Linked DNA regions of Homo sapiens: all the other regions are linked to region 2. The links come from fine-mapping of genetic effects on gene expression. A gene starts in region 2. Each other region holds a variant in brackets. All regions are shown on one strand. Distances are between the middles of the regions.

Region 1 (2,759 bases), 28 kb before region 2:
GGTTTTAAAAAGGGGAGATTCCCTGCACAAGCTCTCTTCTCTTGTCTGCTGCCACATGAGACGTGCCTTTCACCTTCCACCATGATTGTGAGGCCTCCCCAGCCATGTGGAACTGTAAGTCCATTAAACCTCTTTCATGCCTTTATCAGCAGTGTAAAAACAGACTAACATATGCCACTTCTCTTTTTTTTTTTTTTTTTTTTTAGGTCTTGCTCTGTGGCCCAGGCTGGAGAGCAGTGGTGCAATCATAGCTCACTGCAGCTTCAACCTCCAGGTACAAGTGATCCTCCTGCCTCAGCCTCCCAAGTGGCTAAGACTACAGGCCTGCACCATCACACCTGGCTATTTCAAAAATTTTTTGTAGAGATGGGGTATTGTTATGTTGCCCAGGCTGGTTTCAAACTCCTAGACTCAAGCAATCCTCTCGCCTTGGCCTCCCAAATTGCTGGGATTACAGGCGTGAGCCACTGTGCCCGATCCTACTTCTCTTTCTTTCTATCATATAGTCAGGGAGCAATGAGGGCACTGGAAGCCTTGGGAACAATGCCCTGGGCCAGGGCAGCCCTCAGTAAAATGTTACCTAAGATTGCATCGACTGCATCATCACGTGGTCAAAGAAGAAACACTTCCTTTAGTAATAGAGGGACTGTGAAAGACTATATTTACTCCATGAGAGAAGTCAGAATAGTGGTTATTCTGCAGGGAAAGGAATTACCTGGGAAGGGCATGCGGGCACTGAGGGGGTGGTGGGGTAGGAAGTTTCTTTCTTTCTTTCTTTTTCCATATTACAAGCCATCAAGCAAGGGAGGAAGTTTCTGTACTCATTTGTTGGTATTTACACGGGCATACACACCAAGCTGTACCTGGTAAATATCTGTGCACTTAACAGCGAGTTATAGTTCAATCTTTAAAAACCTAACTATCAATGATTACATCCTATTTGGAAGGAACTATGCTGGGATAACTGAATATTTTGGGAAAAAAGAACGGCCAGGTGCAGTGGCTCACACCTGTAATCCCAGCACTTTGGGAGGCTGAGGCTGGAGGATTGCTTGAGCCCAGGAGTTTGAGACCAGCCTGGGCAATGTAGGAAGAACCTAACTCTAAAAAAAATTTTAAAAATTAGCTGGGCATGGTGGCATGCAACTGTAGTCCTAGCTACTTGAGAGACTGAGGTGTAAGGATAGCTTGAGCCTGGGAGGTTGAGGCTGCAGTGAGCTGGGATGGTACCACTGCACTCCCGCCTGGGTGACAGAGTGAGACCTTGTCTCAAAGAAAAAAAAAAGAAGGAAAGAAGGAAAGAAAGGAAGAAGAAAAGGAAGGAAGGAAAGAAGGAAGGAAGGAAGGGAGGGAGGGAGGGAAGGAGGGAGGAGAAAGAAAGGAAAGAAAGAGAAAGAAAAGAAAAACAAAGAAAGAAAGAAAGAAA[AAGAAAGAAAGAAAGAAAG/G]AAAAAAGAAGGAGGAGGAGGAGGGAAGGGAGGGAGGGAGAGAGGGAGGAAAGAACAGAACTAAAATATTGGGTCTCTCTCTGTCACTCCAGGCACTAAAATTAATTTTAAAAGTAACTAGAAAAACATGTTGATGGACAGTTATGAGCTTGCTGGAGGAGGGAGGGCTTTCTAAGGATAAAAACAAAGAGCATGGAGACAATACTGACAGGACTGTTAGACTGTAAGCATCCTGCTCCCCAGTCTTGATACCCAGCGGTCACTCAGTAAATATTTGTGGTACGAATTAAATGAATGAATGAATTAACAACTTTTGTGCTGGATGCCTGTCAGTGTGGAAGGTGTGAAGAGATGGGTGCTGGTGCCTGAGCACAGGGGGACCTAGCCAACCAGCCCTGTGGACAGCATCCTCACCGGCAGGGAACACTTGCCCCAGGCAGAGGTGCCTCCCCGGGATGGCCTGCTCCTCTGCAGGAGCACCGCAGCTTGTTCTGAGTAGGCAGAGTCCATGTTGAAGGCTTCTTCCCTCCCAGCCTGCTCCTGCAGCCCCCCAGGCTCTGCTGCTGCGGGGCGGGGGAAACAAAGCAGAGAAAGGCAGTGAGAACTGGCTGCCAGGAAGCAAGTGCTTGGGTTCGGGACTTAGGCCCTTAGTCCTAAGAAGTGAGCTCCCAAGCTCAAGTTCAAAGCCCCAGGATCAAATCATTAGGTTTAGGGCTCAGGCTCATTGCCCAGGAAGTGATTTCCTAGCTATGGCCCATTGCCCCCAGGAAATGATTTCCTAGCTAAGACCCTCACTGCCCCAGGAAGTGATTTCCCAGCTAAGGCCAATTGCCCAGGAAGAGAATTTTCCCATCTTGAGCCCCATGGGCCTGATGGCAACAGCTCACTTAAGGGCCCAACCTGTCCCCTCAGGGCTCCTCCCTACTGCCCTTGAGCAGGGAAGGCAGGGAGTCAGCAGGAAGCAGGAAATGCTGGGAGGTGTGCACATTCTCTTACTTCACAGAGCAGCCCTTTATGCAGCCTGGAGGATTCTCAGGGCCCTGGAGAATGAAGACCACTTACCTGGAGGAAACTTAGAGGCCCCGGAACTGAGCTGGGCCCCCTTCATACCGGAGTCGCCATTCTCTGACGACATTTTCTATGCAAATTACAGACAGTGCCCAATTACTCATGTGGGAAGCTGACAATGCTCACACAACCCTGGGAGACAGAAGCCACCCACAACCCCTTTTCACAGATGGAGCCACTGAAGCCCAGAGAGGCTGAGTTACTTGCCCAAAGTCCCACAGCTGCTAAGTCGGGGAATGGGCACTGG
Region 2 (2,759 bases):
CAGTTGTCCTACGATCAGGATCACCTGCTCCCTGAATCTGCTTTCTGAGTACAGACCACGTCTAGTCTTCAGGTCCTTGGGTGGCAAATGAATGGGGCAATGGGGGTCTCCTGCTGCAGGTGTGTTCCAAGCTAGAACACTTTTGGAGGGCAGGGTCTATTCAGATTCTAACATTCCTTTTAAACTTGCAACTACAAGTCTAGGATGTGAATTTTACCCATGCAAGTCCCCAGAGATGTTCATTGCTGTATTGCTTAGAATCGTTAAAAATTGGAACCAACCTAAATGTCCATTAGCCAGGAACTGATTCAAATTAACCAAAGATATCCATAAAGTTGGATCCTGGCAGGCCACTAAAGTGAATGAATTGGATCTTTATGTTACTGACATGTAAATATGTCCATAACATTAATTGAGGGGTTGCAGGGGAAAACCTTACAAGCACATGTAACACAAGAGCCTATTTGTGTAAAACTATACAAGTTTAGGTTTACATATGTCAAAAAGTTCTCCCAAGGTATATGTCAAAACTTTAACAGTAGTAAGTTTTCAAGAATGAACATATGTATTCCTGTACAGTATTCCTGCACTGTTTGACTTTCTATAATAATCAAATTGTAATATGATGTAATCAGAGTGGGGGAAATGACTATTTGAAAATTCTGGTCTGGCTGTCAGTGGCAGGCTGAGCAGGAATAAGGGGTGACCAGTTCTCAGCCGAGGTGACCACACGGCCACACTGACCCAGAAACTTGACCCAGAGACTCCTGAATCTTGAGCCCCTGGGCCCCCTAAGACTCTACACCCAGAGGAAGAGGAAATGGCACATACTGGCGTCACTCACGGTCTCTAAGAATCTGAAAATCAGTGACCCCTGCAGGAGGCCAGTAGCCTGAACCCAGGGCAATGCTGTGTCCCAGGAAGGCTCTGGGTTTGGAGTCCCATGGACTAGGGCTAAAAGCCATCTCCACCACTTGACAGCCAGGTGACCGGGCTCTCCAAGCCTCTGTTTCCTCATCTGTACGATGGAGGAAGATTCTTGCCTCACAGGGATGTTGTGAAGACAGACCGCACATGCCCCTGGTGCATAGTAGGGCCAACTTCCCTCCCGCTCCCGTGACCCCTGTACCTGCAGCCCAGGTCGGCCCAGCGCTGGGCGCAGCGCCTGGCAATGCGGGCCCGCGGGATCCGAGGACACGGTGAGGCTAGGGGCCCTGGGGCCAGCCTCTCCATCTGGGCGGCGGGGAGGAGGGCAGGCTCGGCCATGGGCTGGCACCTCGAGGATCCCGGTCGGTCGTGGTGCTGCCGCCGTGGGGCTGACTCGATCGGCAATGTGAGAGGGAGGAGTGAGGTAGGGCCCCCGTGGCGCACCCAGTTCCCAGACACCCTCATGCAGGACTAATGTTCAGCCTCCTCCTGGGGCGGGGCTGGCTTGGCCGGGGCCACCTACAGGCAGGCACTCGCCGCACACACACACACCACTGAGTCCCACCCGCCTGCACTGGAACTGCGAGGTGGAAACGGCGCCTTTCAAAAACTGTCATGAAATATGATTTGCATGGCCACTATTATTACCTACAGCCATCCCGATTTCAGAGTAAAACCACATGAATAAAGCACCTGGCTACTATGGGTGGAAGAACGTGCTCACGACCCAGGGGTTTTTATCTGGCTGGGCTATTCCCTCTGAGGCTTCTCTGAGCCTCGGTTTCCTCCTCTGTGAAATGGGGATGGTGACATTTGCCAGGAGACAGGAAAAAAGCAAGCAGGAAGATGTCAGGGTGTAAAGAGAGCAGGACCTGGGCACGGGGGCGGGAGGATAGGAAGGGAGCAGGAAATGGGAGTGGCAAAGTGAGGGGGCGTCCGGAGAGCCTCCCGGGATTGGTCTTTTGGCTGGGATGTAAAGGAGGAGGAACTAGCTGGGGAAAGGCTGGGTAAGGGGAAAACCCAGGGAATTTAACCCCCTCTTCTGTAAAATGAGAACTCATTCATTCACTTAGCAAATCTTTATGGAGCTCTGTAGGGGCCCTGGGGGAAGGCGACCAGAGTGTCTGAAAGCAAAGAGCAGGAGAGTGTGGACTCAGCTGAGAGGAGAGCAGAGGCTGAGTGTCAGGGTGGGGAGTGGGAAGGGGTTTCCAGGTGCCAACAAGGACACAAGCCAAGGTGTTGCAGTAGGGCATTTGGGGAACGTATGAGAAGCGCTCCTGCCAGCTTCCCTGGCGGTGTCCTATTCCCTGCATCCATTTTGGACCATGAGCCCCTTCTCTTGCCCTCTGGCCAGGACTGAATGCCATAGACTTCCCCAGATTGCCCGGGCCCGCCCTGCCCTCCTCTAAGCCTCCGGGTGTCAGTGAATCTTTCCAGGAAGCATATTCACCTGTACTCCAAGAAGAGAGGCCCCAGAGTCCTCATCAAGGAGGGCCCCCAAGTCTATGGGTCCCCACAGTCTGAAGCTCTGTTCTGGCCTTAGGGAGGCAAGAAATGGGCCCCAAGAAACTGAAAACAGGGCCCCACGGGAGCCATAGAGCCCAGGAGCATGCATGGTTCTGGCATTAAAGACGGGAAAGGCCTCGCAACACAAAGGGTCCTGAAAAACCCCAAGTTTCAGGTGGCTGTCACTGGCTGGAACCTGCAGACCAGGGCTGTGCAGAAGACCACCCATCCACTTCTCCTGAGCCTCCTCCTGAGGAGGAGACAAGGGAACCATGCCACTGTGAGGCCAAGGAGCTGGGGTCCAATATGTAGGTGAATTGTCAGCC
Region 3 (2,759 bases), 24 kb before region 2:
AGACCTATTAACACCAACCAGACTCTCCGGGGGAGAAGATCTAATGAGCCTTCTGAGAACTGGGGGCGGGGTGGGGGGTACTGATAGCATTAGCCAGTGTATGGATGTCAACCCATAACATAGCAATCCCTGGAAAACAGAGGTGGGTGAAGGGCCCTGCATGTTCAGATTTTGGACCCACTTCTCTCCAAAGTAATGAACCCACTTATCCAAAATCTGGCAGAGACCACTACAGGGTCACATGGTGTCCCCTTGGGAAGTTGGTGCTGGGTGTTGATGTCCCTTTGGGAAGTCCTCCATATTCAAGACCTTATTTGTGTTGGAATTGTCCCCTCTACTGTGCTTCCTAAGGAAACTCTCATAGTCCCATAGCAAAACCATTAACTGGAATGGGAGGGTGTGTTGAGATTTCAGGATCTCGGGTCTTACCTCCAGGGATTCTGTTCCAGGAGTTCAGGCCTCGGGCCTGAGAATCTGCACTTCGAATGTCTTCCTCAGATTATTCTAATGCAATAGGGTCTTCAGACCACACTTGAGAAACACTGGCCTTATCATGGGGGAAATGGACAAGAGCTCTTACTGGAAATTGAACACATGTGTGAGAGGATTGGTGGGGTGTACAGTTGTACCCAGTGTTGACCCAGTTAGTCAACAAGGTAATAAGTGTTTTAAAAACTCAAACAAAACTGCTTTTATGGCAGCCTGGGTTTTGCAAATAATCCAAGTCTTCCCCCAACACTTTCCCTGCACTTGGGAACCAGAACAGATGCCTCCAGGGCAGTTGCAATGTTGTGGGTCCATTCCTGACTTGTGCTGGCTGGTGGAGGTACTGATTCTATCATGATGCCAGACATTTTTTTGTTTGTACAGGATCCTTTCAATGAGCCACTGTTTCTTGAAATGTAGGCATTCACCAACCACCTTTATAATTTTTATCTGTATCTAATTGTCCCTGTAAAATTCCTTACCAAATATATCCCCTTAATCATGGGCTACATTTTTTACTAAAACACATCTATTTTAAAAGGAAACAAGATCCCCACCATAAATGGAGCATCCAACATCACCTGCCATGAGTAGACATTGATGGGAAAAATAAATTATTAACAATCCCTCTGGTTCAAGTTGGTGTCCGAATAAAAAGAAAAGATGACCAGGCATGGTGGCTCATGCCTGTAATCCCAGCACTTTGGGAGGCCAAGGTGGGCAGATCACCTGAGATCAGGATTTCAAGACCAGCCCGGCCAACATGGCGAAACCCCATCTCTACTAAAAATACGAAAATTAGACGGGTGTGGTGGTGAATGCCAGTAGTCCCAACTACTTGGGAGGCTGAGGCAGGAGAATCGCTTGAACCCAGGAGATGGAGGTTGCAGTGGGCTGAGATTGTGCCACTGCACCCCAGTCTGGGTGACAGAGTGAAACTCCGTTTCAAAAATTAAATAAATAAATAAAAAGAAAAGAAAGGAAAAAAAAAAACCAGTCTTGGCTCCATGCCACTCAGGATCCCTCAGCCCTGTGAGTCTAAAAAAGCTCCTGTGTTTATTTGGTTGCTCAAAGTG[G/A]CTTCTCTCTGACCCACTCTGACTCCACTCCCTGTGTATTGTGGGAAATTAGATTGCTGGCCACATCATGATTCCAGAGAGGCCACATGGAGGACCTCCTATGCAGGGCATCTCCTGAAACCACTTCTAGTGTAACCAGGGATGTTTTTACATTTACACTTGGAGGCACTGCATGAGACTATTAGGCCCTTAGGAGGTCTGCATCACCACGTGGTCTGTTTTGCCAACCAGGGGCAAGCCCAGCTGAATTACATGCCAAACCAGGAAGGGTTCCATGTGGAGCCCTTTCATTCCCTCATCTGCTGAACAAGTAAGGATGGAGGAGGGGAATGTGCTTGGCTCTGTTCTAGGCACTGTGGACACAGCAGTGAAAAGGGCCGATGATGTCCCTGGCCTCATGGAAGTTACATTCTAGTGGGGGTCACAGACACATGCACAGTGAAGTGCACTAGGTAAAGTCAGGCAGTGATCATTGCTGCAGCAACGAACAGAGTAGGGCAGGGGCTAGAGAGTGATGGGGCAGGGGTGCTATTTTGTGTAGGGAAGCTGGTGAAGACCTCTCTGAGGAGGTAACATTTGAGCCCAGTCCTGACTGGAGAGAACAAGCCATGCAGATGCCTGGGGCAAGAGCATTTGAGGCCAAGGGAGCAGAGAGAACCAAAGGACTTGAGGCAGGAAAGTGCTTTTAGGGTCAAGGACCAGCAAGGAGGCCCGAGGACAGAAGTAGAGTGACAGCCAGTCAGGGTGGGAGGAGAAGAGGCAGAGAGGAGGCACGAAGCCAATTATGTAAAGCCTGGTAAGTTATGATCTGGTGGCTTTATTACACGTCCCCAAATTCTTTGACTCTCACCCCATCAAGGGGTGGAGTCTAATTCCCCTCCCCTTGAACATAGCTGCATGCAGGGTAACAGAATGCAGCAGAAGCAATGTTGTCTTTCTTCTAAAGCTGGGTCATAAGCAGCAAGACAGCTTCTACCCAGCTCTCTCTCTTGGTCTTGTGCTTGGAACCCAGCCGCCATGCTGTGAGGAAGCCCAGGCCACATGTGGAGGCCTCATGCAGGTATTCCAGATGATAATCCCAGATGAGGCCCCCTGATGGTCACATCCACCACCAGGCACATAGATGAGAAATCTTTTGAGATGAGTCCAGCCCCAGCTACCATTTGATTGTAACTGCATGAGAGGCCCTGAGCAAGA

Alleles and levels. Positions count from the first base shown, and alleles are read on the strand shown. Sizes are in standard deviations (SD) of each study's normalised expression.
For the expression in skin of the gene that starts at base 1,400 in region 2, AAGAAAGAAAGAAAGAAAG is the high allele of the variant in region 1 and G is the other (large effect, 0.90 SD a copy in TwinsUK).
In carriers of allele G in region 3, the expression in testis of the gene that starts at base 1,400 in region 2 tends to be higher than with A alone (small effect, 0.29 SD a copy in GTEx).

The links. PIP is the estimated chance that this variant, and not a neighbour inherited with it, causes the effect.
Region 1: its variant is the best candidate, but not a certain one, in a credible set for the expression of ARHGAP40 in skin (TwinsUK, PIP 0.65).
Region 3: its variant is the best candidate, but not a certain one, in a credible set for the expression of ARHGAP40 in testis (GTEx, PIP 0.81).

What each region holds. Positions count from the first base shown.
Region 1 is chr20:38,628,750-38,631,508 of GRCh38, reverse strand. It overlaps ARHGAP40 (Rho GTPase activating protein 40), which reads right to left. Exons shown (of 15, transcript NM_001164431.3): 4 at 2,507-2,582; 5 at 1,859-2,007. Among named protein-coding and RNA genes, the nearest start is that of ARHGAP40, 28 kb to the right of the region's middle. The variant AAGAAAGAAAGAAAGAAAG/G (reference allele first, on the strand shown) is at 1,427.
Region 2 is chr20:38,600,450-38,603,208 of GRCh38, reverse strand. It overlaps ARHGAP40 (Rho GTPase activating protein 40), which reads right to left and starts at 1,400. Exons shown (of 15, transcript NM_001164431.3): 1 at 1,130-1,400. The coding sequence starts at 1,266. RefSeq lists an enhancer at 2,278-2,759.
Region 3 is chr20:38,624,111-38,626,869 of GRCh38, reverse strand. All of the region lies in intron 2 of ARHGAP40 (Rho GTPase activating protein 40), which reads right to left. Among named protein-coding and RNA genes, the nearest start is that of ARHGAP40, 24 kb to the right of the region's middle. The variant G/A (reference allele first, on the strand shown) is at 1,563.